Homo sapiens: one gene and its partners. The protein of the gene in region 4 purifies or fractionates together with the protein of the main gene of each other region. This does not show direct contact. Each region holds a gene or a part of one and is shown on either strand. Other genes may lie near its edges.

Region 1 (5,580 bases), on a different chromosome or scaffold from region 4:
GGGGGATGGTTCCTGCCCGTCTGGTCTAACCTGAGACGAGTTTTGGCTACCCCACCACGAGTTATGAGACGAGCAGGCTGGGGCCTCACTGCCCCTGGCTCACCTCTGCATGTCGCTGGGTTTCTCAAGGAGCTCAGACTGCAAGTGAGTAAGCATTTCCACTCTCCTCAGAGAAGAGAGATTGTGCTCCAAAGTGTAATGGCGAATGGGCCACCACCTCCCCTTCGCCCAGATATTCTGACTATGGAGCAGGTGGAGGCTGCAGGGGCCTCACATGCCAGCTCCTGGGTAAAGTATGTATGAGCACAGAGCCCCGGGCTACATAGTGAGGGAAGGCAGCCAACTCGGGACTTATCGGACCCGTGGCCTCTGTGCTCCCAGCATGTATGGGGCTGAGATGATGGCCTGGACCTCGAGGAAACACAGGCAGGAGGAGGCATGAAGGCGCTGAAGGGAACCTCTCCACTCGATTCTCTTTGTATGACACAGAAAGTCCACAAAGCCTCCGAGATGTGTTTACTTATTCTTCTGTGTCCCCAAAACCCCTTTCCAAAATAACATTTAAATGATTGTTCTGTGCTGTGTGTTCAAATGGAGATAATCAGATGCCAGTGGCTTTACAATGTGGGTTGCATTCCATTTTCCCAGGCGCCCAGGTCCTGGGTCTCTAGGCCACCGCCCGCCGTGGCCGCCCCTCTGCTCACCAGGGAGGCCAGACAGGAACCCTGCAGCTGCCAGAGCAAGCACGTCCCACAGCCTTGGGAGGCCTCCCAAAATGTGTCCAGATTCCCACAGGCAGAGAGAGAGGGACTGAAAGGCTGAAGTGAAGTGACCGTGCCTGCCCAGCCTGGGACTGAGAGCCTGAAGACCAGCTTTCCAGACTCTGTCCCAGAACCCCCTTGGCCCTCAGCAAATCCCCTCCTCCTGGCCTGAAACAGACTCCAGGCTTCTTGCAGAGACGTCTTCTGTGGAGAACCAGAAAGATTGAGTCCACCCTGACTGTCCCGGGACAGAGCTGCTGAGCAGGGTGCAGGAGCCACAAACACCGGATCTTTCGAGGCACATCAGTGACAGATCTGGGCACAGCTGGACCAGCCAGGACATTGAGCCACTGCAGCCCCAAGGCTCTAAATGCGGTGCTTCAGCTCTAGCTTGGCCACCGTGGCCCGGTGCACCTCGTCAGGGCCGTCGGCAAAGCGCAGGGCTCGGGCCCAGGTGAAGAACTGAGCCAGTGGGTAGTCGCTGCTCAGGCCTGCTGCTCCAAAGGCCTGGCAGACACAGAGTGGAGGGAGGCGGCCCTGGGTCAGCCCTTGTCTCCGAGAGCCCCAGGAATGATAGCCTGCTCTTGATGGCCCATAACAACCATCTTCCCGGACTTCCCTGTGGCACCTATGTGATACAATCACTAATATTCCAGAGGGCTTCCATGGGGCCACACCTGCCATCCCACGGCCTCCAGACTCCCCAGGCCCACTCTGCAGGTGCCTTCTGCCCTGTGCTGGGGCCGGGGGTTAGGATCTAAGGAGGCGGCCCCCCTGCATGGGAAAGAGCCTGGGCTCTGGGCTTATGAAAACCCAAGTTCATGTGAATTTGAGGTCAGCTACTTGCAAGCTCAGTGACCTGGACAAGTCACTTCACTTTTCTGTGCCTGTTTCCTCACATTCAAAATGGGGGTACGATGGCACCTCCCACCTTGCTGGGTCATTCTGAAGAGGAAAAGGAAAGTTGCATGCATGGTGAGTGGGTGACACAGGGCATCTGCCAGGGTCTATGGGAGGCTGGGCGGCTGAAGATAGGAGAGTTTGGCATCTAGTATTGATGGTTCAAATAAGCCAACTGTCTGGTCTGTGCTCACCTGAATCGCACGATCAATCACTCGGGAGGCCATGGACGGGGCGACCATTTTAATCATGGCTATATCCAAGGCTGCAGCCTGTAAGGAGGAGGAGATGCGATCATAAAAGACCCGAGGGCAGCCTGGGTGGCAGAGTGAGGCCCCCCCGTCCCCCATCTCTACTAAAAATACAAAAACTAGCAGGGTGTGGTAGCATGTGCTTGTAGTCCCAGCTACTCAGGAGGCTGAGGTGAGAGGATTGTTTGAGTCTGGGAAGTTGGGGGCTGTGGTAAGCTGAGATTGCAACACTGCACTCAAGCCTGGACAACAGAGTGAGACCCCCTCTCAAAAACAAACAACAGGCCAGGCGCGGTGGTTCAGGCCTGTGATTCCAGCACTTTGGGAGGCCGAGGCGGGCAGATCACCTGAGGTCAGGAGTTTGAGACCAACCTGGCCAACATATAGTGAAACCCAGTCTCTACTAAAAAATACAAAAATTAGCTGGGCGTGATGGTGCACACCTGTAGTCCCAGCTACTTGGGAAACTGAGGCAAGAGAGCTGCTTGAACCCGGGAGGCGGAGGTTGCAGTGAGCCAAGATTGTGCCACTCTACTCCAGCCTGGGCCACCGAGTGAGACTCTGTCTCTCAAAAACAAAACGAAAAACTAAACCACAAAAAAGACCCGAAGGCAGAAAGCCTGGAAGAATGATCAGATTCCCAGCAAGAAGTCAAACACCACCGTCCAAAACAGAGGCCCCAAGGTCTCGCTGATGTGAGCTGGGTGAGGCTGCCCCTGCCTGGTGTACGGCTTGACAGCACCCAGGGATGAAGGGCGCCATGTTGGCAACTATTATCTTATGTCACAAGATGCGAAGCAAGTGCTGGCAGAATGTGGCTGTCTTCCCAGATGACGGGGAACACAGCCAGCACACACTGAAGGGATAAGGGGAGGGTCCTGTGCTTTGCTCAGGGTCACGGCCAGCTCTGCCTCCAAGCAGCAGTGGACCAAGGCCACTCAGGGCTCTGGGAAACCGAGCTACAGTGATCTGCCCTGGGGCAGGGTGTTCAAGGGAGACACCCAGCAGCCTCCACCATATCTAGCACGCCAGCGTCAAAGAACCAGGAACTGTGAGCATGAGCATGGGTTGGTCCCTGATGGTTGAGGGTCTTGGGTGGGGTTGGAGGCTGCCCCACAGAAAGCTGGACAAAGCAAGGTCAACATGGCATTGTGCTTGGTCATCACAGGCACTTAGAAAGAGCCTTAGTTAGCCTGGGCAACATGGTGAGAGCCGGTCTCTACAAAAAATAAAGAATTAGCTGGGCATGGAGGTTTGCGCCTGGAGTCCCAGCTACTTGGGAGGCTGAGGCTTCAGTGAGCCATGATGTACCACTGCATTCTAGCCTGGCTACAGAGCAAGGCCCTGTCTCAAAAAATAAATAAATAAAAGGTTAAAAAGAGCCTTAGTGAATGACTAATGTCACACTTGAAAATAAGCTTCTATTTTTGTTAATTCAATATTCAGATGAAGGCCAGCAGAGGGTCCCTTTTCCCTGCCTTACTCTTAGGTTGCCCAACACCTCCACCAATGGCCCTGGGAGTCCAGGGCCACCCAGGGGCCCTGTGGCCCCATCAGACCCACTGCCTTGGACTAAGCAGCTCACCAGGTCAGTAAAACACAAAGGCCAGTCCTCTCTTCTTGTGCCTTTCCAATTTTTGAAAAACTGCCCAAACAGCTCCAAGTAGAGGTGAAATAAAGTTTCTAATGTCAAGAAGCCAGGCTCTCATGCTTTGCTGAGTGAGGAGGAAGAATCTCTGCCTCTGGGAGGCCCCCTCGTGCCCCTGCCCCTACCTTGTTTCCTGCCAGGTCCATGAGGTGGGCAGCTCTCAGCACCAGCAGCCGTGCCTGCTCAATCTCCACGCGCGACTGCGCGATGTCCGCCAGCACTGTGCCCTGCTCCACCAGGGGCTTCCCAAAAGCCAAGCGGGACTTCACCTGTCGACACAGGAGATGTGCGGCTGAGGACATGCTGGGCTGGGGGTGGCCACGAGAGGCGGGGGCTGGTGGCCTGCAGAGCTGGGTGGAAGCAGACAGGACAGGGCAGGGGAGGAGAGTGAAACCAGGACTGTGCATCTTCTCAGCCAAGGTGCCTGTGTGCAGCCATGCGCCATGTCCAGGGAGTAGGTCTGACACACAACCTTCACGTGTGCCACAGCCAGCCACAGCCCACAGGGTGCCTGTAACAAATTGCTTCCAAGAACCCTTTATTCCAGCCATTGCACATCTGGGCAGGCCTGGCTACCAGACAGGAGCAGTTATAGATCTGAGCCAGCATCTGACCCAAGGCTACTCCTGGGAATGAGGGAGTGACTGCAGGCACTGCACACGGCGCAGGCGAAGGGTGCCCTCTGCTGACCGCAGCACCCCTTCCTGCCCTGCAGCTCCAATGGGAGCAAGGTCCCCTCAGCCCCGTCTCGCTCCCGGCCTTCCGCCGTGGGTGGCCTTATCTGCAAGGGGGATTTTAAATTCTGAAAGTCACAAGGCATCAGAAAAGGTTCTAAGTATTCCTTTTTTTTTCTTGTTTTATTTATTCTTTTTCCTTCTTTTTTTTATTATTTTTTTGGAGACGGGGTCTCACTTTGTTGCGCAGGCTGGAGTGCAGTGGCGTGATCTTGGCTCACTGCAACCTCCGCCTCCCGGGCTCAAGCAATCTTCCTACCTCAGCCACCTGAGTAGCTGGGACCACAGGCAAGAACCACCACATCTAGCTAACTTTCCAATTTTTTGTAGAGACAGGGTCTCACTACATTGCCCAGACTGGTCTCAAACTCTTAGACTCAGGCAATCCTCCTGCCTTGGTCTCCCCAAGTGTTGGGATTACAGGCATGAACCACCACACCCAGCCTAGTTTTTTTTTTTTTTTTTCACTAAAAACAATCTACACAAATAATTTATCTCATGGCAGAAAAACTACCTGTTTTCAGAACAAAAAAAGAGAAGACAGTAAGAGCACCTAGAATCCCACCATCTAGTCACCACTAGTTAATATTTGGTGGATATTCTCCTCTATCCTTCTATAGTTTTTTTATATATACTTATTTTTTCCAAAAACGGGAGCCACACTCTATATATGGTTTTGTAGCCTTTTTGTTTGTTTGAGACAGAGTTTCGCTTTTGTTGCCCAGGCTGGAGTGCAGTGGCGCGATCTCGGCTCACTGCAACCTCTGCCTCCCGGGGTTCAAGTGATTCTCCTGCTTCAGCCTCCCAAGTAGCTGAGATTACAGGTGCCTGCCACCACACCTGGCTAATTTTTGTATTTTTTTAATAGAGATGGGGTGTTTCATAATTTTGGCCTGACTGGTCTTGAACTCCTGACCTCAGGTGATCTGCCTGCCTTGGCCTCTCAAAGTGCTGGGATTACAGGCATGAACCACAGCACCCGGCCAGCCTGCTTAAAACAATAACAACAACAACAACAACAACAACAAAACATTATTTTGCATCAAAGCTAACAGCCTGTTTTTGTTTGTTTTTTTTTTTCCCAGACAGGGTGTTGCTCTGTTACCCAGGCTGCAGTGCAATGGCACACTCACAGGTCGCTGCAGCCTCGACCTCCCAGGCTCAGGAGATCCTCCCACCTCAGCCTCCTGAGTAGCTAGGACTATAAATGTGTGCCACCACACCTGGCTACTTTTTTTTTTTTTTTTTGAGACAGAGTATCGCTCTTGTTGCCCAGGCTGGAGTGC
Region 2 (6,550 bases), on a different chromosome or scaffold from region 4:
ACCTTATTGCTGAAATCTTGAAGCTCAGGTGTTGACTATTACTACGATTAGGTCTGATGGTATCGCACACCCAGGATGCCAACAGCGCCAACTCCCGCTGATTGAGTTCCCACTGTGTGCCAAGAAAGAAGACACTAGGCCTTCATGTACATTGTTTCATTCATCAACCAGCACCCTAACTAACTCTCTTTTCTTGGTATTTCCTGTATGTCAGAAAAGGAAACTGAATCTTGGGGAGATTAAGCAACTCTTTCAAGGTCAACCGGGGAGCGGCAGAACCAGAGTTCGAAGGAAACCTTTCTGAATCTGACGTCTGCCCCTTCTAAATTAGGACTCTCATCTATCAGCCTGTGAGAAAAAATACAGAAAGCATCATTCAGGCAACACATGAACTCAAGACACTGAGACTTCGCTAACCTTCCTCGCACACAAGGTCCTAAAGGAACTACCACACGCATGTCCACATTTGATGCACATAACAGACTCTCACCGCATTGAAATAAACCCCAGTATGATCATAATAGCTTTTTTCTTTCAATTTTTATTGAACACAAGTATTCCGACAGAATGCAAAGTCAAAATTCTCAGTTAGTACTCAGTATTTACACCAGTGAGAATGGAAACAAAGGTGGTATCGATGTTTCACTTGGTAAAAAGTTTTATAACAAGAGAGAAGGCCCCCGAAGTACAGAATGCTGGGTAGGGATGTTAATGGAGGTCTGAAAACCGCCATCCAGACAGACAGCCTCAAGTGAAAACCTGGGACTCGGAAGGCTCCATAGAAAAGTGTGAAAATAGAGTTCCACCTCCAAAGCTGCACTATATACACCACAGCCCTGCAGGGTCCAGTGGCCCTGCTCGTCACACTTGAGTGCTCCTCCAGCAGAACTTGGCCATGCCGGTCTTCATGTGAATACATATGTATGGCACATACACACATAGACACATAGACATTGGAAACTGGAGTTGATCCCTCCTTCAAAAATTAAAAAAGAAAATTATAAGCTTTGATCTCTTAACATAAAAGATAAAACATCTTGGAATAAAATGACTCCCTCTTTGATTTTAGAGAAAGCATTGCTTTTTTTTTTTTTTTTTTTTTTTTTTTAAAGGAAAAACTCTTGCATGCTGAGACAAACCTATGTGTAATGGGAGAGAACAGACCAAAATGTGGGCAGAGTCTTAGGTCCTAGCTAATGGCAGAGCCAGGGTTCTAGGGGGTCAGCTGTCCCGGGCCAGGTGATCTGAGGGCTGACCTGTTTCTTCCTAACCATCAGAACCAAAACCAGTTTGACCTAACCACAACCACTTTGACAGTCTTGACAAGGTATGGCATGGGCTTGGCCTGGTGTGGCAAAGCCATCGACATTACAAGATGAAGAACTGAGTCCACTGAACAGCCTGGTGACCAGAAGAGCCTGCCCCTCACTGCTGGGCCCTCCCGGTCTCAGACACCCAGGCTCTCACATTCTACTGTGTGCTCTAAGATCTCTCTTCATGTTCCTCTATTCTGAGGGCCTGTGCATTTGAACCAGAGATCTGTGCAGGCCCTAGAATCAAAGGGGCCAGGGCTGTGTGTTCTGGGATCCTCCATTTCCATCCCCAGGAGCTGAGAAAATGCAACATAACCCCACATTGAGCAAATGACAAGACCATTATTCTTCACAGTTTGAAATTATAATCTAGCATCGCCACTGATCAGACTGCAGAAGTGTCAGAACGTTGGGGAGAGTGGCCCACAGAATGGACCCAGAGGCAGCCTTGCCACCCTAACCTCTTGCTGCTTTGTACCTTAGGAGAGGAGCGCATGCGGAGTACTGATTTCTGTTTACTTAGCATCATCTTCATCATCATCATCATCATCTGTATTTCATTTTCTTTGTTAAAAGGCTTCGATTCCGTTTGAGTGATTTTTGTTTCCTGAATATTTTTTCTGAACTATCTGCTATACCTTCCACAACCAAACTATGTTGAAGTTTTATTTCAATACTATGACAAAAACACGTTTCACACTAAAATATTCACGCATCCACAGTGCACAAGCTTGCAGTTCTAAAGTAGAATGAGGGAAAAAAAAGCAAAATTTCTATACAAAGGGCTGGCTTTTCCCTTCTCCCCCCCCTCCCATCCCCCTTAAAGTTTCTGTATTTTTTCCCCCACTTGGTTTCCAATCCAGGAAAGTTGTGTTATGACTCCAGACAGTAGGTTGTTTCTTTCTTCTTTTGTTTCTATAAATGCTGCCTAAGTGAACAGAAGGCCGATGTTACTTTACTTCAACAGATTTCCAAAAAAAGACACTAATTCCCTGAAGCACACATGCTCTTCCGCTCAAATCTAGATTCTGGGCTCAAAAGGAAATGGTATGTATAGATTTTATTTGGCTTTCTACACAAAGGGGATGTGTGGGGTAATAATGTGTGTTCACCAAGACCAGCCCCAACTATACAATCTTCTCTGCTTCATTCAACAAAGCCTAAGGAGTCCTTCAAAAGAAGGGTGAGAACGCCTGGGAGCAGATCCCTTTTCACAGATGCAGGCAGGTGGCGGCTAATCAGAAAGTGGTCTAACCCCCAAAGAAACACAAAAATAACCAAAAATTCAAAAGCAAAACCATTCCAGAATGAGATGGATTTTCACCTGAGTGGGACCCAGGCAAAAACTGCAGATCAGAAAAGAGGGGAAGAGCAGCTGTAAACAATCATGTTTTGTAAAGTTGTCCTGTGCTAAAGCAAGCGTGGGATGATCCTACCTACCTCTAGGTGGTATTTGTTACCTTAAAAAATAAAAGGCAGCTATTTTACACGGACATTTAAACACAACCAAAGTCAAACATTTGTCACCTTGTAAACACTGGAAAACAAAGTTGGCAGAAAGAAAGAAAGAAAAAAGAATGTAAAAGAAAGAAAAAGAAGTCTGAATACTGCAAATTGAGATCTACCCCCAGAAGCTGCAATTTGGCATTCGTCCTATAAAATAAGAGTCTACGTGGGAATTGAATTCAGCTAGAAAGGGTGACACACTTTGCATACTGAACAAATACAAAGTGAACAGAAATTATAACTTATTTATGAGGTTTTACAGAGTTCAAACTTGACTGAAAGTATAAAAATAAACTGTGGACTTTGTTCATTCGATTAGTCTTAGTGCCTGAAAGTATTTCTCTGAAACTGGTCTGTGCCAATCGGGTAACACCAAGTGTGGTCTTCCTGAACCTAGATTTCGTTTCTGAGCTTCCTAGATTCTTAATTTGGGGTCCTTTTGTTTGATTTTTTAACGGTTTCAGGGAACGGAGTGTCCTAGTTTGGCTGTGGGTTTAACCTTTTTGTCTCATTTTCTTACAAGTGAGTGTGCAACAAAGGGACCCTTTCTATAAACCTACAAAAAGGAGATTCCCATGTTTTATCTGTTTAGTTTTTTTTAAAGGCAAAAGACACTAGAGAAATGAGATGTGTGTGTGTGCATGTGTGTTTGTGTGTGTGCGTGCGTGTGTGTGTCTGTGGTGTTGGAAATGCTCTGGTGAAGCTGCTGTGTCACTTTTTATTTTGATCTTTGCTCGGTTCTCTTCACCCATCATGCTTTGCTCTCGTTCTCCTTTGTCTGTGTGGCGTCATTGGGGACCGTCTTGACTTCGGCTGGCGCTGGCTTCGTTTCTGTCTCCTGGCACTCTGGCTTTGCTTCTACGGGGCCCTTCCTGCAGAGAATCAGGAAAACAGAACCACTGAGACCACGGTCTGCAGACATCTCGCCCCTGCATCCAGGCCTTGGGGACAGCAGGGAGGAGGAGGGGTTCTCCAGTGACAGCACCCGGCTCCAACCTCTGCCCGTCAAATCACCTGGGAGCACTAAAAATCACCCAAGCCCGAGCTGTGTTCGCGGAAATCCTGATTTAATTGGTCCGGACACAGTGACTTTTAAAAGCACCCAAGTGACTCTAATGTGCAGCCATAGTTGAGAAGCACTGAGTCAGAAGAACGAGTCCTTTCCTCTTCCAGCCCTAAGTTGATGCCAGAGGCTGTGTTTTTACCTGGGGTGGTGGAAGGGGGCAGCAGAGGCAGCTCCTCCTCACCCTGACCAGCTGCAGTGGCAACAGCTCAGCTGGATGTAAATGCAGCCTGCTGGGCTGGGCTGGGCTCCCAGCACTGATTTCAGGGGCCCCTTTGCAACCCACTCTTGCCTGTCCCTTCCCCACCCCACCCTGTGCTGTTGCAGGATGATGCCTCTAGGGCCTGCCTGGGTAGGGTGAGAAAACACTGATGGAGGCAGCTTTTCATGGCAGCCTGGTGGGGTACTAGAGTGGGCCTGGTGGCTATGCGAGAGTTGAGGGCAGCTGAGTGGGCAGGGCTATCAGAGTCCTTTTCCCTCCCGATGCTGAGATTCAGGGCTCCTGGCGAGAGCCCCTTGCAGCCCATGGTGGCAGCATGGCAGCTTATCTGGGGAGCAGCCATAGGAGCCTCTATAAAAATCTAGGTCTGACTCTGCCTCCATCAGTTCCAGGAAAGGGAGTCGGGTCTGAGGATGCATGGGGACAGGCACAGACCCCAGCCTCAGCTGGTGCCACTGAATTTTGGCAAGACACTTACAAACCTGAAAGGTTAAGGCCTTTCTCTTGAACTTTGAGACCCAGCAGCCATTTGATGCTGGGGAGCCCCGAGTCTTCCCAGCCACTCTAAGAGCAGGAGAAGCAAGAGTGGGCTGGGGGCCGGGGTTGGGAGGGGAGGGTGAGCATCTGAGCCACAGTGTGAGGGGACCTCTGAACTGCACCCTCCCCTGCCACGGGCCTGGGGCCTACCTCTTTTCTTCCTGCACATCAGTGCCTTTCTGGTAGGGACTCAGCCTGGCACTGAATAACACACCGACTGGGGGCCCCAGGGTGGCTGATAAGGGCACCTTGGCCTTCTTAGCCTGCTTCCCAAGCTATTCTCATCAGTGGCCTGACTGCAAGGGCTCCCCCAGGGAAAACAGAAGCCGCTGCTAGGATGATAAGGATAAAACATAATTAACATGGCCTAATTAGCCAGCAGGCGGCTGCTCCTGGGGCCCAGCTGCCTGTCCTGCTCTCTCTGCCTTATCCCAGCCCCTTGGTTGACGGTCGCCTCAGAGAAGCCCTGGATGAGGCTGAAGACACATCTAACAAGGAGGACACAGCACAGCACAAATGCACACCACCACAGGACACAACCCGATGACAGCAGACAAAGAGAGGCCGTACTCGGTCTTTGCTGGCGCAGGCGAAACAGAGCTGTCTGCAGTGGAAGGAGCAAGCTCAGGGGCTTGTCCACTGGCCCCAGCGGCGGGAGCAGGAGAGCCCAGGGCTGCAAAAACATCCTTTGCAAGGTCAATATCTGGGGTCTTGAAGTTCCCTTCGTCCATTTTAAAGTCCTCGCCCTGGGAAGGGTTTGTGGTGCTGACGGAGGCAGCCTCGCTCTTCGGGCTAGCAAGGGCTGTGGCTGCCTCGGCCGGGCTCTTCGCGGCTCCGGGCTGGGTGGGCTCCGGGTCCGGGCCTTTGGTGCTGGGAGCCTCCTGCTTGGCCTGAGGGGCTTCTGTGGCAGGGGCAGCCGCTGCTGCTAGAGGACTGGCTGCCCCAGTCGGGGTGGGGACTGGTGCAGGGGTGGGCTTGCTGGCCGGAGGAGCCTTAGAGGCCTCCCCGACACCAGCAGGGGCGCTTGGGCTGAGGACAGCCCCTTGGTTAGCCAGGACACTAGAAGACAAATTGCTAGCGGCAGGGGTTGAGGTCGGGGTGTCGCTCAGGTCAACGAGGGGGGCGACCTTGGGGGCTGAAGCTGGGGCCGGGGAGGGGGCAGAGGCGCTGGGCCCCTTGGAAGGGGTGGCCTGGCCAGCCGGTACAGAGTTTGAGTCAGGCGTGGCCGTGGCCGGCGGGGCAATACTGGAGGTCAGGGTGGTGGTCTCACTGGTGGGGCTGTTCTGAGCAGTGGCAAAGGTTTCGGTGATAGTGTCAGAGTTAGTGGTGACGGTGGTGACAGAAGGCAGCATGTCCTCGACAGTGGCCGTAGTGTCGGCAGGCAGCCTGTGGGAGGACAGGAAGTAGAAGAGAATAGACAATGAAGCTGAGACGTGACAGAGAAGCGAGGAGGAGGGCTGAAGCCCAGGACAGGGACCATGGGGGTGGGGGCATGCAGTTAGGCACAGGCACGGACACAGGCCCACAGAGAGAGAAGGATGCTGAGAGGAAGCACACGCCCAGGTGGGCAGAAGAGGACACAGGAGACGACAGAGAACGTGGCGGTCTCAAAAGGGACCTGCTAGCCCTTCCCTGCTGATGTCTCTCCAGCTCTCTGCATAGAGCTCCCTTTCCCTGAAGTCCTTGCAGACCTGCCTAGGGCTTCCTGATCCCTGCCCTGGATCTCCATTCAAGGAGGGGCAGGCTTCTGTTCAGCATCCACCTGCTCTAGGCTTCCCAGGTCCCAGAGGAACTGGGCCCAGCTGTCCTGCAGGGCTCCCCAGGGCACCGATGGGAAAAGTCACGAATAAGGCAGATCACGAGTACTCAGAATGGCTCATAGGAGCTGTGGGTTCTTCCAGTCACAGATTT
Region 3 (7,033 bases), about 39 Mb from region 4:
CAAGACTCCGTCTCAAAAAGAAAACCAAAATCTAAATAGACAGAAACAATCAGACATTATGTGCCTCCAGATGTGATCTAAATATAAGGTATACAGCACTACATACAAGTTATTTTTGCTGCAAATGTTTAATCTGAACCTAACCAAGCATCTATACCTAATTTCTAGTTTACTACAAATGCAGGAGATGGAGAAGCAAGTTACAGGAAAACAATCAGACAAATCCAGAATGTGGCACAATTTATAAGAAATGGCCAATCATTTTATAAAAATAAATATCAAGCAAAAAAGATGGAGGAAAAGACATAACTACTCAATGCTGGTTGTTTAAAAAAAAGTTATAGCCAGGCACGGTGGCTCACATCTGTAATCCCAGCACTTTGGGAGGCTGAGGTGGGTGGATCACCTAAAGTCGGGAGTTCGAGACCAGCCTGACCAACATGGAGAAACCCCGTCTCTACTAAAAATACAAAATTAGCTGGGCGTAGTGGCGCATGCCTGTAATCCCAGCTACTCGGGAGACTGAGGCAGGAGAATCGCTTGAACCTGGGAGGCGGAGGTTGCAGTGAGCCGAGATTGTGCCATTACACTCCAGCCTGGGCAACAAGAGCAAAACTCTGTCTCAAAAAAAAAAGTTATAAAAGATAATTTGGTGACTCGGGAAAATTTGATTACGGACTAGGTAGTAGATGGTACTTGTTCATTTTCTTTGGTACTGGTAATGATACCAGTATTGTAGTTACATAGGAGAACGTCCTTATAACCTGAAGTACACAGAGCTGACAACTGGAAGGTTCATCATACGCATACGCGCTTGTGCACATACACAGAGCAAATGTGGCAAATGTTAATCAATACTCAATCACGACTGTGGGGCTACAGTTCATTATTATACAGTTTATTATTATACAGATGTTTGTTGTATTGTTCAATTTTTCTGTATATTTGAAAACCTGGATAACAAAAAGTTAAGAAAAAAAAAAACCAAGTCAATGCCAAGAAAAGAAAAAAAGGAAACAAAATTCTAAACTATAAGAGACTGAAGAGATAACAACCAAACACAATGAGTGAATACTGGGTGCAAAACAACTACTCTAAAATGTATTTTGGTAACACTTAGGGAGACTGAAACATGAACTGTGTATTAGATATTAGGGGACTATGATTAAGTTTCTTAGGTGTGGCAACAGTATTGTGGTGGTACAGAAGAATGTCATTATTCTTAGGAGATGTATGCTAAAGTAATTAGGGATGGAGGGTCACAATGACTACAACTTTGAAATGGCTCAGAAAAAAATAAGAGAGTCAGAGAAACAAACGGATAAGGCAAACACTGTAAAATGTTAACATTATTGAATCTACACGGTGAGTATATATGTGTTCTTTGTTTAATTCTTTATACAAGTTTGACATTTTTCATAATTAAAATGGATACAAAGTTTTTATAGGGCCGGGCGCAGTGGCTCACACCTGTAATCCCAACACTTTGGGAAGCCTTGGCGGGTGGATCACCTGAGGTCAGGAGTTCCTGACCACCCTGGCCAACATGGTGAAACCCTGTCTGTACTAAAAATGCAAAAAATTAGCCGGGTGTGGTGGCACATGCTTATAGTCCAAGCTACTGGGGTGACTGAGGCAGGAGAATCACTTGAACCCAGGAGACAGAGGTTGCAATGAGCCAAGATCGCACCACTACACTCCAGCCTGGGCGACAGAGCAAGACTCTGTCTCAAAAACAAACAAACAAACAAAAAACCTTTTTTTAGGTAGATAATTCATGTCTATTATGGTTACCCTTTAAATGAGGGACATCTCCTAGCTCAGCAGCAACAAGTATCCTCTGACTTATTCACTCAATGTATTACCAAACAATATACCTACCTAAGTAAGAATTAAGATGTTGCACGCAAGTTCCCAAAAATTCATCCCTTTGAGGTGGATCATAGTTCAATACGCTGAATGGACGAATAATAGCAGGGATTGTAAAAGGATGGATCTGTATAAAAAGAACAAAAAATTTATAGTTTAAACTTTAGGAAAATAAGACAAAATTTTAACCTAATTATTTTTTAGGAGAAATCTTTTCCTATCATCGCTACAGTTAAATAATAAATGTATCACCCTGCTTATTAATTTTTCCATCCTGCTATAATTTATTTAACCCCACCAACATTATTAATAACCCCAAAAGTGTTAATGTAACAAAAAAGAAGTAAATCAGATAATTTACAAATTTATTTTGTTAGGTGTAAAATTCTGTTCTGGCTGGGAGTGGTGGCTCATGCCTGTCATCCCAACACTTTGGATGGCTGAGGTGGGAGGATTGCTTGAGGCCAGGAGTTCGAGATTAGTCAGGGCAACATAGTGAGACCCTGTCTTTATTTAAATTTAAAATAAGTAAATAAATTCTGTTTCAGAATTCATTAGTCACTAAATTGAATAGGAAACAGTATCAGCAATTTCCATGATAATCAGTACATTTTATAGAATAATCATAATTAAAGAAGTTTCTTAAATTATAATCACTAGCATTTATTTTTCTTTCATTTGCTTTTTTATTTCATTTTTCACTCATTCATCCAATACTTAATGACTTCCAGGCACTATACTAAGCAAGTTAAGACAAACTTTTTATTTTCATTTGTGAGAAACACTGTCTTTTAAATAAAGGCCTTGCCCTGATATATTTATGATAGTGATTTTGTAAGTGAGCTGCTTCTCACATAATCCATAAAGCGGCATTTTACAAGTCCCAGAAATAAATCTGCAAGAAGATGCAATGACAGTTTAAGAATATAGTTGCCAATGGATACCTTATAATTTTCTCAGTTTTCAAGCTTATCTCACACTTTTGAATATAATTGTTTTTAAATGGTAAAAATAATACCACACGATTACAGAAATAAGAAAAAGTAAAACCAAAAATCATTCATACTCCACTGTCCTAACATGAGTATCCTCAAAGAATTGATTACTAATCTTAATACTGTAATGAACCAAAGAATGATTGCTGATCTTTCCAAATCTACAATGCCGGAATGAGAAAGTGACTTTAAGGAGAGGAACAACAAATCGCTGAAATAGAAACCAGAGTTTTCTTTGTTTTTCTTAAGAGACAGGGTCTCACTCTGTCACACAGGCTGGAGTGCAGTGGTGCAATCATAGCTCACTGAGCCTTAATTCCTGGGCTCAACCAATCCTCCCACCTCAGCCTCCCAACCGCTGGAATTACAGGCTTGAGCTACCACATCTGACCCAGAATTTATTTAATTTTTAAACCTCAAATTCCAATCCAAGTTCTCAAAGTGCCTATGATAAAAATTATGCTTGCAGAAGTTGACAACTCTATAAAATTAATGTCTACCATTTAAATTTCACCTTTTCAATCTGCTGAACAGCCACTGAGGCTATCCTATCTAGTAGCAAAGTACTGAGGTAATCAGTACTAGAAATAAAAGATGCAATCTCCCCAACATTTATGTAATTAATATCATCCATGAAATGCTGTAAAGTAGCAATCATTTCTTCAAGAAGTGACTCAGGAAACGTGTTTCCTTTGAGAGATTTAAGTTCCTTCCGTAACAGATCCAAACTGTTGCTGTGTTGTAGTCTCTGACGACCATAGTGATCTAATTTTTGAAGTAGTTTCAGTTGTTTCGCAGTCATATTATCCAAATACATGTGATCATGCTGAATCCATCTTAAAACAGATGTGGCAAAACTACTCAGGTTATTTAGGTCACACTGTGGTAAAACGGCTTCAATTCGGGATATCCCCACTTCGTCCAAGTGAGGAGAAGGGAGCAGGGAAATAGCACGGACCAGAACAGACACCTCAGTTGGTATGAAACTATTTTTCAAATAACTGCAAAATGAAAAATGAAAAGAATACATCAGCAACAAACCCAAAATATATATGTATTAAAATATGAATACATATGAGTACAATTAATAGGTAAGATGATGATTCAAAAAAACCTCTTTCAAACTATGTTTCTCCTCTAATCTCAAACCACAACAATCATCAACCACAGAAGACTTCTGTGACCAAATGTGTGGGAGTTCTTCCAAGCAGCGGATACCAACTGGGTGTCCAATTCAGTTCTGACACAATCTACCTGGGGACAGTGTCAGATCCCACAGGTTGGGAACTTGGTCTCTAAGACTAACCTCTCCCACAAAAACCCCAGACTCCACTTGCAAAAGTAGGCCTCCAGAACTTCTGAGCAACCGGCTTCAAGTTGGGTTTCCCATGACCTCCTCTTTGGGTTTGATTAATTTGCTGGAGTGATTCACAGAACTCAGGGAAGCAGTTGTTTATGTTTACAGGTTTATTATAAATGATATTATAAAGAATGCAGATGAAGGGACAGTAGGGTGAGGTATGCGGGAAGGGGTGCAGAGCTTCCATGCCCTCCCTGACCATGCCACCCTCCAGGAACCTCCACGTGTTCGGCTATCCGGAAGCAGTCCAAACCCAGTCTTCTTGGGTTTTTATGAGCTTCGTGACATCAACATTTCCTCACACAGGGTGTAGGGTGGGATCTCTCAGGGGAGCGTCTTAAGACCCACGATCAGAAAGGTGGAGGGAGATTAGAGTCCTGCTTTGGGGCAGGAGAGAGATTCTCTTTCCAGAGGCCTAACATACCCAACATTGTTAACAAAAGGCTATAGCAAGAGCTATAGAAGTTATGAACTAGTAACTAGGACAAAAGCCAATATATATAACATCACAGGTGGGCATAATACAAGTTAATTTAAGAAGAGTTAGATAGGCCAGGCACGGTGGCTCATGTCTGTAATCCCAGCACTTTGGGAGGCCAAGGACAGGGGTTCGAGACCAGTCTGGCCAACATGGTGAAACGCTGTCTCTACTAAAAACACAAAAAAATTAGCTTAGCCAGGCATGGTGATGTGCACCTGTAATCCCAGCTACTCAGGAGGTTGAGGCAGGGGAATCTCTTGAACCAGGGAGGTGGAGGTTGCAGTGAGCCAAGATCGTGCCACTGCACTCCAGCCTGGGCGACAGAGGAAGACTCCATCTCAAAAAAAAAAAAAAAAAAAAAAAAAAAAAAAAGAGTTTGATAAATTCAAAGATGACAGGTCCATAAAGGATTATTCAGGAAAGCCTAAGACTTCCTGATGCCCTCCGTCTCAAAAAAAAAAAAACAAAACAAAAACAAAAAGAAAAGAAAAGAAAAAAAAATCTTTAAGTATAGAAATAGTGGAAGGAATAAAGGAATAAAACAGGAAGACCTGTTCTGAAGCACAGGCCAAAATTTTTTATTCAAAAATAAAACCACAGTCCCAGGGAAACAAAAGGTCCATGTCAGAACAATGTTTCCAGTGCTGTCGCTGAAGAAAGAACTTGGGTTCAATTTCTGATATCACCTGTCAGGCCCTGGCATGCAGTGATCACGTAATAAAATTGGTTCCTTTTTTGTTTCCGATACACAGTCCAACATTTAAAACAAATGAATAAACAAACAACAACAAAAGAAACAGGACATAGTTGACCTCATTCTCTACTTCATTCCGAAATCCCCATGGCAAGAGTCCCACCACCAGGACAATAATTGTTAAAAAAAAAAAAAAAAATTGAAAAACTGGGGCCGGGCATGGTGGCTCACACCTTTAATTCCAGCATTTTGAGAGGCCAAGGCGGGGGATAGCTTGAGCTCAGAAGTTCGAGACTAGCCTGGCCAACATAATGAAACCCCATCTCTACTGAAAATACAAAAAATTAGCCGGGCGTGGTGGCACATGCCTGTAATCCTAGCTACTGGGGAGGCTAAGGCATGAGAATCGCTTGAACCCGGGAGGCGGAGGTTGCAGTGAGCCGAGATCACGCCACTGCACTCCAGCCTGGGTGACAGAGCAAGACTCCGCCTCAAAAAAAAAAAAAAAAAAAAAAAAACTTTAGGTATAGAAGTAGTGGAAGGAATAATACAATCTAAATTAAAACAAAATTGAGGCTGGGCGCGGTAGCTCACTCCTGTAATCCCAGCACTTTGGGAGGCCAAGGCGGGCAGATCACGAGGTCAGGAGATCGAGACCATTCTGGCTAACATGGTGAAACACCGTCTCTACTAAAAATACAAAAAAGAGTTAGCCGGGCATGGTGGTGGGTGCCTGTAGTCCCAGCTACTCAGGAGGCTGAGACAGGAGAATGGCGTGAACCCGGGAGGCGGAGCTTGCAGTGAGCCGAGATGGCACCACTGCACTCCAGCCTGGGCGACAGAGCGAGACTCCATCTCAAAAAATTAAATAAATAGCTGGGCGTGGTGGCTCACGCCTGTAATCCCATCCCTTTGGGAGGCCGAGGTGGGCGGATTACCTGAGGTCGGGAGTTCGAGACCAGCCTAACCAACATGGAAAAACCCCGTCTCTACTAAAAATACAAAAAAGTTAGCCAGGTGGGGTGGCGCATGTAATGCGCTGTAATCCCAGCTACTCGGGCGGCTGAGGCAGGAGAATCGGTTGAACCTGGGAGGCGGAGGTTGCGGTGAGCCGAGATTGTGCCACTGCACTCCAGCCTGGGCAACAAGAGCGAAACTCCATCTCAAAAAAAAATTAAAAATAAAAATAAATAAATAAATACATTGAGTTACTTTTAAAATATTTTTTAAATTAATTTTTTTCTGGAGACAGGGTCTCACTCTGTTGCCCAGGCTAGAGGGCAGTGGCGTAATATAGCTCATTGCAGCCTTGACCTCCTGGGCTCAAGTACTCCTCCTGCCTCAGCCTCTCTACACACTGGGGATATAGGTACATGCCACCACGCCCAGCTAATTTTTTGTTTTTTGTTGTGGAGACAGGGTCTTGCTTTATTGCCCAGGCTGGTCTTGAACTCCTGGGCTCAAACAATCCTCCCAGCTCAGTCTCCCAAAGTCCTGGGATTACAAGCATGAGCCACTATGCCTGGCCATTTAAAATATTTAAATTAGCATACTAAAATAATCGTAATATTAATACTCAGTGTTAGCAAGGGTGTACTGATACAGGCATTCTCATTCACTATTAGTAAACTTAA
Region 4 (7,033 bases):
CGGGAGAAAGATGTAGGCTGGGAGGCTAGGCCAGTCTCTCTTTTCACATTTTTCTACCTGTTTATATTCTAGCCATGCTGGCAGCTGATTGTGACCACCCAGCTTAAGGGTGGGTCTGCCTTTCCCAGCCCACTGACTCAAATGTTAATCTCCTTGGGAAACACCCTCACAGACACACACAGGATCAATACTTTGTATACTTCAATCCAATCAAGTTGACCCTCAGTATTAACCATCACATACAGAACGGCAGATAGCTTGAAAAAGTAGTTCACCTAATTTCAACATTTTAACCCTGAGCTCAGAAAAATCATAGTAAGCTTTATCATGGCTAAGCCATAGTAGGGCAAGTCAAAGTATGCGGCTTCTATTTCTGACAAAAATTTAAAGAACTGATGATAATTAAGTTCGTAAGGGTGAACAAAGTTGGCCATTGACATTATTGGTTCAATAACACATGATATATTCAAATATTTCCTACAAAGTGCTTGCAGATAAATAATACAATAAATAACCATTGATTTTAAATGCTTTATATTTTCATGAGCTTTTGATTGGTCTTCCACACAAAGGTTTAACACCATCATTTTTAACACGTCTTAGCACACTCCACTTCAGGTTGAACTAAATTAGTCATTTTCTCAAATTCTTTGAAAATGTTCTCCCACACAGACTATTTTTCAAGGCAAACGCTTCAGTAAACCAAACTCAGCATTGACTCCTCAGATAAACAACTGATTAATATCAGTAACAAATGTTACTGATATTACTCATCAAGGGCCAAGGAAAACCCCTTAAAATCATTTGCTTTGTTTTTTAATTGATTATTGATGTTGCTACAACATCCTCAACTCTATTCTTTTCAAAAGGTAAGTAGTTTTAAACTAGCTATTTTCTCTAGACACATTTCATGCCTGCTACAATCAAACATGATTTAACCCATTTATTAATTCACCATTGGTAAATGGCTTTCCTCGCTTAGCTAACAAATGAGAACCTTACTTTGAACTTTACTTTTATTGCAGCCTCATTTTTTAAAAGAAGTTATGTGATATCTCATCTTAAATTTTCTAATTTTTTCTGACTGAATGCTGTGCTATCAGCTGGGAATACTGTAATGATTGCTTAATCTGGGAATGACAACATATATTGTATTATATTAGCACAGCTGTAGTATCACTGAATAATAAACACAATGCTTTTCCATTTTATTTGATAGCAAAAAAATCCACATACACTATGCCTTTAGAAGCAGAATATTTAGTCCATTTTTCTCTTCTTATTTTGACATGATGGGTTCTCCCTGGTAGCGAAAAAAGTAAAGTGAAAATGTAGAGCAATACATGTAGCACTTGAAATATGTCAAGTTATGACTGAGTCACTGCAATTCAGAACGCACCAAACAGCCATGCGAAGCGGTAGTAGGTGAATGAATGTGGCTGTGTTCAAATAAAATTTTATGAACACTGAAATTTTAATTTTATTTAATCTTCACACTTACAAAATATTGTCCTTTTAAAATACAATAAAATCCCCTTTTAAATGTTTTAAATCTTAGAATAGTTTTAGATTTACAGAAAAAAAATTTATTTATATAAGATAGTACAGAGTTCCCATAAACACTCAGTTTCCCCTTATTAAAATCTTAGATTAGTAGGTATATTTGTCATAATTAATGAATCAATATTGATCTATTGTTATTCACTAAGCTGATACTTTATTCAGATTTTCTTAGTTTTTACCTAACGTCCTTTGTCTGTTCTGGGGTCTCATCAAGACACCATATCATGTTTAGTTGTCATGTCTCCTTAGGTTCTTCTAGGTTGTGATAGTTTCTCAGGCTTTCCTCATTTTTATTTATCTTAATAGTTTTGAGAAACACTAGTCAGACATTTTGTTCCACAGCTGGGTTTTTTTTTATGGTTTTCTCATTATGGAACTGGGCCAATATGTTTTGAAAGGGAAGACCACAGAGGTAAAGTGCCACTCACCTATCAAGAGTGCAAGCTATCAACATGACTTCACTCTTAATGTTAACCTCGATCCTTCTTCTGATTTTTATTCAATGACTTAAAAATGTGAAAATCATTCTTAGCTTATGAGGCATAGAAAAACAGATGATGGAATGAATTTGGTTAGCAGACCATAGTTTGTCCATTTTTGTTCTAGTGGATAAAAATTTTGGAATAAAGTTTGAGAACTGAGGATGTATCAACCCAAAATTACTTATTCTAATAGATATTCTAATAGAAAAAAAAAACTGAAAAAAAATTCACTATCCTCATTAGCTGACAAAGGACTCAAAAGATAAACAGAAAAAGAAATAGTACAATGGTTATTGCTTTTATTGAACTTGGGGGAATACTATGAGGAATGTAACCATGCAGGATATATTATATCTACACATGCACAAGACTGAATACAAAAATATCATTAACTACTATTGTCACCAGATATATTAAATGGGCTCCACTTTTATTAAATTATATTTTTATATTAAACTTTTATTATATTAAACTCCACTTTTAGTTGCTTTTGACAGAGCAGGAGCACTGTCATCTTGGACAAACACCACCATTTTAAGTTCTAGCTCCCTTTCTAACCTCAAGCATTTCAAGGAAATCACTTCTCTTCTAAACAAGCAACCAGAAAGAGCAGACAGTAAAACAAAGATAAGACAGCTTGGGCACAGAAGGAGGGGGAAAGTCTCTTGAGTAACCACCAAACTTCACACTCATACAATGAGCCCCAGTAAAACAGTGGGCCCTAGTAAGCATATTCCTTTCCCATTAGGTGCACTAAGATAGGGAAGCTAAAAGCAGACGTGGGGGATATGCCTGCAGCTACAGGAAGATGTACGGGAACAAACACAAAAACTCTCCCTCCCAGATAAGCAAGACAAAGAGGCACAGAAGCAGTCCAAGCCTGTGATAAGCTCTCCCACCCTGAACCCTTAAATACTCTTAGTCTGCAAGAGAGCATGCTCCTGACCAAAACTGGCCAGAAGCCCGTCTCAGGTTTATTCTGTCTTTGACTGTTGAGCCACTTTTTGTGTTTCTTTCTTCCTTCTTCAACCCTTACACTTTTAGTTGTAACATTATTCAAGGTGGCTAATTAGGTAATACAAATAAATAAATGGTTTTCAGCAACACATAGAAAACTTCAAGAATGTAAAAATAATACATGTTCCATTTAGTCAATATTTTACATTCCATATGTTAAAAATGTTCAAAAATATAAAAATAATGGTTAATGCAGGAATAATTAAGTGTAGTTCTTGCACTATTGAAATCATAACAGAGCTCAAATTCCATTTTGAAGTAACTCACTTTATAGTTCCTGAGCACTGAATCATTTTTACACTTTCATTCCTTAAAGCCCAATTTTTCTTTCTGTACATCAGTGACACTTGATAGTGTCAAATGCTGTCTCTGGTAAGGTTGGCTCTTGGAGTTTCTGTAATCATGACTTCTATGTAGCTGTGTCTGAAATTGCTAGAGTGGCATCACATGGGGAGCACATACCATGATAATAACACTCCAAGATGAAAGGAGGATCACTTTCTCAAGATTCAAGTGGTGGCTCTCTGTCATTTGTAATATAATTTAATGAGTTCAAATTGCCAGTCTTCTACATTGTTTATAAACATTCTGTGTGTGTGTGTGTGTGTGTGTGTGTGTGGTCACTTTTTAAACAAATAAAGATGAAATAACTACATCTGTGTTTATATTTTATATGAGCAAATAAATTATGGAGAAAGAGGTGGAAGATACACAGTATTATCTGAGTGGGATTGAGAGGAGATGGGACAGTAGTGAGAGAGAAAGAGAATGAGTACATAAGACAGGAAAATAGTCATAGGAAAATGGAAAAAAGTGGATTGTATAATGTCAAGTGAAAATATATATAAAATTTCATTTATGACATAATTGAAAGTATATATTAATTGAATAGGCACATAGACAAAGACTAAATAGAAATGTGGGTAGTTTCTGCTTTTGATCCCTGTTATATGTATATAGTAAAAACACTCTTTAAAGCTAGCTCTGTTGATAACCTGAAAAAATATGAATCTCTGGTATGCTGGAACTCTAAACCTTATACTCTTGACATGATAAAATGAGACCCATAATTTTGCCACTTATCTGTGGCCACCCAGCTAATTTATAGTAAAACGTGGACTACAGCCAGGTGTCCTATCTCCCAGTACAGTGTCCTCACACAGCACTACCTCTGCCTTTCAAGGCTATTCTATGGCAGCTCTACTCAGTGATGGAGTTCATTTCATGGGGAAATGAAATCAGCCAATGATTATCACTCTAGAAATAGTGTTGACCTGTTTTTGGACATGACAAGTCATCAAGAAGACTGTTTCCTGCCAGCAATTGGCAATGAGAATCTGAGATTACAGAAAATCAGGCTGAAGGCCAAATTATAGATCTACACATAATAGCAGCAGTGGCCAATGTTCTATTCATTTCTAACTAGTGTCACTCCCTCTAGGCAACACATCTGTCATGCAGCACAGCTGTGCGATCCTGGGAGACAATAACAACTGGGAAAAGTAAAGTGGTAATATCCATCAGCAAGAAGGAAACAAATTTTGAGCAAAAGCAATGAGGAAGTTAGATATTGATCAAGTACTTATATTAATAAATGTAATATTATAACAGCTATCAGTGTTATGAAGAAAATGTCCAATTGCTATCAGAAAAAATGTGGGTTCTGAAGAAGAAGCCGTAAGAAATAAAAGGAAGAGAAAATGGCCTCGCAAAATTCTCACATACATACACACCCCATTTAAAAGCCTTCAGGAGTTCTCACTAATGCTTAGAAATAATCTTAATCTAGTAATCATTCCATTAAAAATAACTTAACTCATCTGCTAATAAAAGAAGAGGAAAGAGCTGACATCTTTTGTTATCAGGCACCTTTAAGCTTTTTGTTTGTATATGTTTAATTCAAGACTCACATTCTATGAGTAGATGTCACTATAATGCTTATTCTATGAGTAAGTCCTATTTTACAGTGGAGCCAGTGGAGACAACCAAGAGATGAAATTAACGACTAAAGTCACACGGCTGTTTAAAAATTTAATGAATAACCCAGAGAAAAGAAAAAAACAAAACAGAGGGGAAAGAAAGGACAAGATGGGTTCCAGTAGATGACAAAACCAATTGAAGTTCAAGACAGGAAAATAAGTGAGATGCATGAATGCCTGCTGAAAATATTTTATTTTGTCACAAAGAATTGAGGAAGTTCTGGGAATATGAAACCTACTCTCTGTGCATTGGCAAGGAAGAGCCACACCTGGGACCCTTCCATCTCACTGCCTCTGGTCTACCAGGGCTGAAGAGACTACTCACAATTAATGCAGCCACCAGGAAGCCCATTCCTCAGGGATTTAAGGCTTCCTTATAACTAGAAGACAAATGGAAATAGTCCTCGTTGTCAAGAGAAAAGAATGAGAACAAACCAACTCTCTTATCTTTAACTACAATAGTGTTTGTGGCAATAAACACAGTATAGAGATAATCAAATGTTGAGTTTCCATTTCATTCTGCCAAAGACAGTCCCTAGTTTCCACTTTGGAGAAGCTGCCTATATTCTAGGACTTGGTATGATCTCAGCTCACTGCAACCTCTGCCTCCAGGGTTCAAGCGATCCTCCCACCTGAGCCTCCCAAGTAGCTGGAACTACAGACGTGTGCCACCATGCCCAGCTAATTTTTGTATTTTTAGTAGAGACGGTGTTTCACCATGTCGGCCAGGCTGGTCTCGAACTCCTGACCTCAAGTGATCTGCCCGCCTTGGCCTCCCAAAGTGCTGGGATTACAGGCATGAGCCATTGTGCCCGGCTGTCCTCATTCTTAACTCCATCAGTAATAGTTTTGACAGTTCTGTTTATTATCACCACAATTTGTAATTAACACATGCGTTGAGATGCAGAGTGCAGGCCTACTTGATTTATTGATTTATCCCATTTTATGTCTATACCCCACTCCTACTTCTCTACCTCCCATATACAAGCATTTATGTAAGACACACACACACACACACAATCTTTTATCTGAATATGTTCATAAAACATATATTACTGTTTTATGTGCATGTATTTTAATGTATGTAAATGATATCATACCATATATCCTATTGTTTCTGTCACATGTTATCCTGTTTTTACGATCTTGTCCATGCTGATTTGTGCACATTTAAGCCATTGCTTTTTATTGCTACACAATACCCCATTATAAACACCCAGATTGCCCCTAATTCTCTAACACCACAGAATTACTGCAAGAATCATTATAGACCTGGGTGAGAAATTCCCTGGGATAGAGACTCGGGGCGGAGATTGCTGGGACAGAGGACATGTGTATACATAATGTCACTAAGCAGTGCCCAGCTGATCTCCACAATGAGGGTACCAGTAGGAGGGGTGGGCCCCAGAGGTAAAAGTCAGAGTATAAATCATGGCTGCTTGTGTGAGTTGAGTATATTATCTAACATCTCATAGCCCCATTTTCTCATTTATAAAAATGTGAACAATTACAGTGCCCATCTCATAAAGTTACTGTGATAATTAAATGAGAGAATCAAGTACTTAGCACAGTATTTGGTACTTGGCAAGTAGCATTACTGATTACCATTTTTCCACACCTAGAAAGAGATTTCTGATTTTCTAGTAGGCTCTGAATCTTCATGCTGGAAGGTCAACAGTAGGAATTCTAAGACCTGGCCATTTTTTCGCAGCATGGGACTCCTCTGATGGGCACCTTTCCCCCAAGGTTCTCCTTTGAGTTGGAAAAAATTTTGTCAGATTTGCTTGCCGGTCTGAGGTTACCCCTGTCCAATCCTTCTCCCTCTCCCTTTCAACTTTCACAAGCATTACCTCCTCCCCTAATAAACCTCTAGCACCCCAATTCCATCCTACAGTCTGTTACCAGGAGGATCCACTAACACAGTAAAGAAAATACTGAACATGTTTATATAGTGGTCCTCATTACCATGTGATAATCTGACTATAGAAAATG

The links.
Region 1: the proteins of PTH2R (region 4) and ACAD10 purify together in Homo sapiens (co-immunoprecipitation; 2 studies listed by BioGRID and IntAct, with this or other methods). This does not show direct contact.
Region 2: the proteins of PTH2R (region 4) and NCAM1 purify together in Homo sapiens (co-immunoprecipitation; 2 studies listed by BioGRID and IntAct, with this or other methods). This does not show direct contact.
Region 3: the proteins of PTH2R (region 4) and FASTKD1 purify together in Homo sapiens (co-immunoprecipitation; 2 studies listed by BioGRID and IntAct, with this or other methods). This does not show direct contact.

Annotation. Positions count from the first base shown.
Region 1 is NC_000012.12:111,752,021-111,757,600, reverse strand, and holds the end of ACAD10 (acyl-CoA dehydrogenase family member 10), read right to left. Parts: intron 3,830-5,580; coding exon 3,686-3,829; intron 1,934-3,685; coding exon 1,856-1,933; intron 1,269-1,855; coding exon 1,128-1,268; 3' UTR 502-1,127; downstream 1-501.
Region 2 is NC_000011.10:113,272,408-113,278,957, reverse strand, and holds the end of NCAM1 (neural cell adhesion molecule 1 isoform 2 precursor), read right to left. Parts: intron 6,026-6,550; coding exon of another isoform or gene 5,210-6,025; exon of another isoform or gene 5,057-5,209; intron 3,692-5,056; coding exon 3,571-3,691; 3' UTR 522-3,570; downstream 1-521.
Region 3 is NC_000002.12:169,542,840-169,549,872, forward strand, and holds part of FASTKD1 (FAST kinase domain-containing protein 1, mitochondrial), read right to left. Parts: intron 3,866-7,033; coding exon 3,379-3,865; intron 1,997-3,378; coding exon 1,882-1,996; intron 1-1,881. UniProt on the Homo sapiens protein: Involved in the down-regulation of mitochondrial MT-ND3 mRNA levels which leads to decreased respiratory complex I abundance and activity.
Region 4 is NC_000002.12:208,409,790-208,416,822, reverse strand, and holds part of PTH2R (parathyroid hormone 2 receptor isoform 1 precursor), read right to left. Parts: intron 1,304-7,033; exon of another isoform or gene 1,237-1,303; intron 1-1,236. UniProt on the Homo sapiens protein: This is a specific receptor for parathyroid hormone. The activity of this receptor is mediated by G proteins which activate adenylyl cyclase. PTH2R may be responsible for PTH effects in a number of physiological systems.